Linked DNA regions of Homo sapiens. The protein of the gene in region 1 interacts with the protein of each later gene in a pairwise test. Each region holds a gene or a part of one and is shown on either strand. Other genes may lie near its edges.

Region 1 (3,500 bases):
TGTGGGAACAGAGCTGTGTCATTTGATACATTCACAGGAAGCTACAAGGCTGATTATGCATGACAATGTAACCTGTAGTACATTTCTAGCAAAGATAATTATATTTTTCTAAACCACCTGAACACTGAATAGGAAAATAGTTCTGTAACTGTGGTAGCAATAGCCACATCTCAAAATGTTGTCATTTATATTTATAGCCAAAGAATGCTTGACAACCATTGCAGAGTGGTAGCTAGGATTGTTTAAGCCTAGGCAATATTTCTATAAAACAAATATTTTCAGTTATACAGTATTAATTGGACCACCAAGTACCAGTCCCTTAATTTTTTAATTTGTCTACACATTAACGCAGAACAGAAAGTTTTTGAGCCAAATAATAGGGCAAACTAGTTTCAGCCTACCAAAATTGGCTTCCCAGTAATGCACAAATAAAGTTGTGGAGTCTAATTAGTTGAGTAGCATTTGGGGTCAAGATAGGTAATGCCAGCAAGGCTTGCAGTAGCAAGATGGGCTTCATTTTGGGTAGAAGAGTTCATTGAACTGACCTTTGACCACTCCAAGGTTACTGCCAGTATTCCCAGAACAATTAAAACACTTTTATATAACTCCCTGCTCTCCATTCTCCTATTTCTTAACTATCGGTGAGCCTTGGCTATCAGACTGCCTATGATAGGGCAAACAAAATTTGGGGCAAAAAATCCCATATCATAACAGAATCTGTCAATTTGCATAAAATTATTTTAATGAAGTGTTTTGTTATATGACCAATTTATCATGAATAAATCATCTTTCACAAACGTACATATCAATTTACTCCTCCCAAAATTTATTTTTGCCACAATGTGGAGAAAAAAGCAAGCTATGAACAGGCAGCAAATTCAGTGGCTCAGATTGACACTGAACTGAGCTACCACCCTAAGGAAGAGCTTAGGTGGAATAGGGCAGAATAAATAAGATGTGAAATGGGAATAACATTTGTAGAAGAACTGAGTCAGCTTGGAGCCAGGATCAGGAACCAGGAAGTTTTAGTCAGGGAAAAGTCTTAGTAGAGGCTAAACAAAGAAACATCAGGATGTTAATGACAGCATTAGCTATACACAACAAACAGGATACAGGAGAAAAAGTTAGGAACAATGTATCAATGAAGTTGGGAAGGCAAGCTCATTTTTGCTACCTTAGTTGAGTAGCAGAATAATAATTTTCTGGAGCCTACATCCTAGGAAAGGTAAGGTTATGCCATATAGAAAAAGTATATCAAGTATTTGAGAAACAGTGACCTTGAATATAGTGAAGTGGAACTTGTAACTGGGACAGATTCAAATATAAGGATTTACCCTGGTTACAGAGCCTATTCCATTTGGTGTTTATGGCTGGAGGTGTTTATTTGCATCTAGAGGTGTTTCTAGGAGAAAAGATGAGTGCTTATGAGAATAGACTAACATAATATTACTGAGTTGTACAGTTTATAAAGGAAAATTACTATAATAATGTATGATTCTGTATATCTGGGTTATAAACAATTTTGAGATAATTGGTCATTCAGACACCACAGTACAGATATCATTAGAGGACATACAGTATCAGAACAGTGGGAGAATAATTAATGTTTCTAATGAACTATTACATTTTCCAGGAGAGAAACTGCTTTTCATTTTTTAACATGTATTAATCTTGGGAACTGTGGGATGATTACAAGAGTGATGTGTTTTTGAAAATATGCTCTCTGAAAACAGCAAGAGAACAGTTGCATACACATTGCTTCATTTACACTATCCCTTTTCTATATGACTTGTTAAGAATCTGGGAGATTGAGGAGAGAGTGTGTCTGTCATTTTTCAAAGCCATGAGGGGATCTTAAGGCCTGTGGGAAATAAGGTTCACTGCTCTTCACAGACATTATAACGAGGATGTTCTGTCTTACATATTACAAAGTGGCATGAATTGCAGTGATAAATTGCTCAGATAATTGGCTGTAGATTCATGGTAAAGGCTCAAATGATGTTCTAATAGAAAACAATTGCCAGATGGTTTTTAATGTTTTTATGATCCCATTCCATCTTTTAACTTGAAAATTTTATTTTTAATCATTTATTTTCATTAAATTAATAAATTGAAACTCCCATGTGTTCTGAGCCAATCACTGTCCATGGAAAGTATACCAATTTTTGTCAAGAATGTCCAAGGTTTTACTTCTACTGCTTTTAATTTTCTGTGGAAGGCAGCACTCAACTAAACAAGAGGCCCTCATGTTCTGAGAAATGCTTTACTCTGACTATTAGTGTTCTGATGATTAATAATTTAAGAAAAGTACTACACATTTACATGACATTAGTGATTAAAAAAGAGGGAAAAAAATGTCCCAAATATTATCTTGGGATTTTCACATAAAAATGCCTGTAATGCCTTAACCGCAGACATAGCACTTTTGAAACACCTTTTGGAAAGGAATAGTTACTGTCTCAGACACTGTTGAGAGATTATAGATTAATTTCTGATTTATAACTCTTGGAATAGTTTCACATAATAAAGACCCACGTGAGCTGTTCCATCAGCTTTCAAGAACAGACACTACTCTCCTTGCCCAAACAAGACATTCTAACTTTTGTACATGTCTAAAGTCTTAGGAGATGAGGACAGGGGCCTGAGAAAAGAGAGATAGAGGTGCTAGTTGGCCAGTAGGCAAGGAGATAAGAATTTTTTGACTGCCAGCAGTGGAGTGAGTTGGAGCTGCAGGGTCTGTCATCAGCAAAAAACAATTGGTAAGAAATTGGGATTTTCTTGAAATATCAAAGAATCCCTGAGACGGGCCAATGAGGTGGTGTCGCTATGTGTTATACTTAGTTGAAAAAAATGAAGATTGCTTGTATTGGTGAGTCAGGGCAAGTCCTTTGGGGATGTGTATGCTTGTGCAGAAGATGGAAAAATAAACTTATGAAGTTATGAAGACTGAAGTACATCAGCATGTATTAGAGACTATTAATTTGTGGTTGCTGTTTAAATCCACTAGTTCAGTGTCATGAGGCGGTGGGACAGGGAAGTGTTTCATACCTATAGTGGAAAAAAGTAAAAGCAGTTATCAGGGCTTTTGAATGATTAATCTGAAGTCTGAATACTTAGCTTCTGCTTAGTGTTAGTTTTTATTTCTATAAAACTTTCACATACTCTGTCCTCCATCTGACTACAACCAGACACTGCTAAACCCCAAAAGTGTCAATGCCTTTATACTAATACTTGGTTCTAACCTTCATAGAGATGAATGTGGCTCGTTCCTCTATCCCCAGGGATACATGATTCACTGAGCTGGAACTAGGGTTTTAGCCTGACTAAAGATCAATTCTGCTCTTGAGTCTATTAAACCAAACACTTTTTGAAAGAACAAGGAAAGCATATTCGAAATAGTACTTGACATCTGTCTTTCTGTTTTATAACAATGATGGGTAATTAAAGTGGAAAGCTCCATGAGTTTTTTTATGGAAATCCTATCAAATTTAAAGTATCAC
Region 2 (3,500 bases), on another chromosome or scaffold:
GGTGTCGGCCCCCCGCCCGCGCCAGCCGCCCCGTCCGGGAGGGAGGTGGGGGGGGGTCAGCCCCCCTGCCCGGCCAGCCACCCCATCCGGGAGGTGAGGGGCGCCTCTGCCCGGCCGCCCCTACTGGGAAGTGAGGAGCCTCTCTGCCCGGCCAGCCGCCCCGTCCGGGAGGGAGGTGGGGGGGTCAGCCCCCCGCCTGGCCAGCCGCCCCGTCCGGGAGGGAGGTGGGGGGGGGGGGTCAGCCCCCCCGCCTGGCCAGCCGCCCCGTCCGGGAGGTGAGGGGTGCCTCTGCCCGGCCGCCCCTACTGGGAAGTGAGGAGCCCCTCTGCCCGGCCAGCCGCCCCGTCAGGGAGGGAGGTGGGGGTGTCAGCCCCCCGCCCGGCCAGCCGCCCCGTCCGGGAGGGAGGTGGGGGGGGGGTCAGCCCCCCTGCCCGGCCAGCCGCCCCGTCCGGGAGGTGAGGGGCGCCTCTGCCCGGCCGCCCCTACTGGGAAGTGAGGAGCCCCTCTGCCCGGCCAGCCGCCCCGTCCGGGAGGGAGGTTGGGGGGTCAGCCCCCCGCCCGGCCAGCCGCCCCGTCCGGGAGGTGAGGGGCGCCTCTGCCCGGCCACCCCTACTGGGAAGTGAGGAGCCCCTCTGCCCGGCCACCACCCCGTCTGGGAGGTGTGCCCAACAGCTCATTGAGAACGGGCCATGATGACAATGGCGGCTTTGTGGAATAGAAAGGCGGGAAAGGTGGGGAAAAGATTGAGAAATCGGATGGTTGCCGTGTCTGTGTAGAAAGAAGTAGACATGGGAGACTTTTCATTTTGTTCTGCACTAAGAAAAATTCCTCTGCCTTGGGATCCTGTTGATCTGTGACCTTACCCCCAACCCTGTGCTCTCTGAAACATGTGCTGTGTCCACTCAGGGTTAAATGGATTAAGGGCGGTGCAAGATGTGCTTTGTTAAACAGATGCTTGAAGGCAGCATGCTCGTTAAGAGTCATCACCAATCCCTAATCTCAAGTAATCAGGGACACAAACACTGCGGAAGGCCGCAGGGTCCTCTGCCTAGGAAAACCAGAGACCTTTGTTCACTTGTTTATCTGCTGACCTTCCCTCCACTATTGTCCCATGACCCTGCCAAATCCCCCTCTGTGAGAAACACCCAAGAATTATCAATAAAAAAATAAATTAAAAAAAAAAAAAAACATTTAAATATCTACAATACTTCAGGTATTTTATTAGCTTCTGGGAATACCAAAGTGAATAAGACGGTCTCTGCCCTGTAGGGCAGATAAGTGTCTAGACAATTATACTACAATATATTTATTCTCCAGGAATAATTACATATACATACAGCCATGCATCATTTAATGACGGATATGTTCTGAAAAATGCATCGTTAGGTGATTTCATTGTCAGAACATCATAGAATGTATTTATACAAACCTAGATGGTACAGCCTACTACATACCTAGGCTATATGGTAGAGCCTATTGCTCTGAAGCTACAGGTGTACAGGATGTTACTATACTGAATGTTGCAGGTAATTGTAACACCATGGTAAGTATTTGTATCTAAACATAGAAAAAGTAGAGTAAAAATATAGTATCATTTTATGGGACTGTATATGTGGTCCCCCACTCACCAAAAATGTCATTATGGAGTGCATGACTGACTCTACATACATAGAATCAATATGATACCAAGGGGTGGAGGGATGGTAATCCTAGAGGGCTTCTTTGAAAAGTACCATATGGTGGCTTACGCCTGCAATCACAGCATTTTGGGAGGCTGAGGCAGGCGGATCACGAGGTCAGGAGATGGAGACCATCCTGGCCAACATGGTGAAACCCTGTCTCTACTAAAAATAAAAAAATTAGCTAGGTATGGTGGCACACGTCTGTAATCCCAGCTACTCAGGAGGCTGAGGCAGGAGAATCGCTCAAATCTGGGAGGCGGAGATTGCAGTGAGCCAAGATCGCGCTACTGCACTCCAGCCTGGCGACAGAGCAAGACTCCTTCAAGAAAGAAAAGAAAGAGAAGAAAGAGAAGAAAGAGAAGAAAGAAAGAAAGAGAAAGAAAAAGTACCATATGATAAAAATAATTCAGTGCTGACACAGCACAGGATTGGGATAAGCAGCAGGAAATGAAGCTAGGAAGGTAGTTTAGGGATAGATTATTATTATGGCCTTGAACACTATCCTAAGGATCTCAGCCTTTATTCAGCAGCCACTAATAGGACTCAATTTTTTTTTTAAATATACAGGGACCAACATAATCACATAGGTTTCAAAAAAGATAATGAAGATCATGTTAGTAGCATTCCAAAGGAGAGACCAATTTGTCCAATAGTTCATGACAGAAGTGATATGGGCTTCTGAACTGTAACTACATAAAAGGAAAAAGGATAGATTTAAGAGACAATCCAGAGAAAGGACATGAAGGAGGACTACAAATTAGAATCAAAGCTGAGACAATGACAGTTTCTAGCTGAGGTTCCAGAAAGGAGTTTATGCCACATACAAAGTAAAGAATATACAGATGCCAAGTTTGGGGAGGCAGAAATGGGTTTCAGAGATATACACAGAAATCTATGAAAAAGGAGTCTTAGAGACATGAAGGAAGTAGAGTTTCAATTTAAAAAGGGCCAAGAACATCAAATACTTTGGAGGCGACATCAACAGATGAGTGAGATTGGGCCACTGAGTTAAACAACTAGGATATTAGTTATCAGGCCTCACACTATAAAGGAAATAAAAAGAATACCTGCTGAAGTAAAGCCATTGCATGTAGAAACCCAAGCCAATAAACTCTAGACCAGCAGTTCACAAACTTTTTGGTCTTAGGATCATTTACACTCTTAAAATTTAAGAGTTTTTGTTTTTTGTTTTTCTTAATGTGGGTCATCTATCAATGTTTACTATATTAGAAATAAAAACTGATAAAAATCTAAATATATTAGTTCATTTAAAAAATAAATACATCACATATTAAATGACATATTTTTATTTTAAAAACTTATTATTTTCCAAAACAAAGATATTTTGTATGAAGAGTGGCATCGTATATTTTTGCAAACCTCTAACATCTGGTTAGTAGAAGACACCTGGATTGTCACATCTATCTCAGCATTCAATTTGTTGCAATATGTTGTTTTGGTCCAAAAATATTAAGAAAATCTGGACTCTCACAGATATACAGTTGAAAAGAGGTAAGTAGTTGAATAGCATTTTCAGATAACTATAGGTGTTATTCTTTGATACTACATAAAAACACAGTTGTTTCTCAAAGGTTAGTTGCAATATGAAATCTGAAACCACATCAATGAAGTTTTCAGTGTTCCCTTAAAATCTGTTGGTATTTTGTACTTTGATGGATTACCCATTACAGTTTTGTAAAATCATACATCGGTAACTAGGAACCATTTGTTTGCTGAGTTATGCGTAGCTTCCAAATGCTGACACATTTCATGGTGAAATATCAGAAATTATATTCATTGATACCACCACTAATCTTC

What was found. Proteins that work in one complex are often made in the same cells at the same time.
Region 2: the proteins of DNAAF6 (region 1) and YAF2 interact in binary tests that used the Homo sapiens proteins (3 or more experiments, as listed by UniProt).

Annotation. Positions count from the first base shown.
Region 1 is NC_000023.11:107,213,111-107,216,610, forward strand, and holds part of DNAAF6 (dynein axonemal assembly factor 6), read left to right. Parts: intron 1-3,500. UniProt on the Homo sapiens protein: Plays a role in cytoplasmic pre-assembly of axonemal dynein.
Region 2 is NC_000012.12:42,228,249-42,231,748, forward strand, and holds part of YAF2 (YY1-associated factor 2), read right to left. Parts: exon of another isoform or gene 2,974-3,500; intron 1-2,973. UniProt on the Homo sapiens protein: Binds to MYC and inhibits MYC-mediated transactivation. Also binds to MYCN and enhances MYCN-dependent transcriptional activation. Increases calpain 2-mediated proteolysis of YY1 in vitro.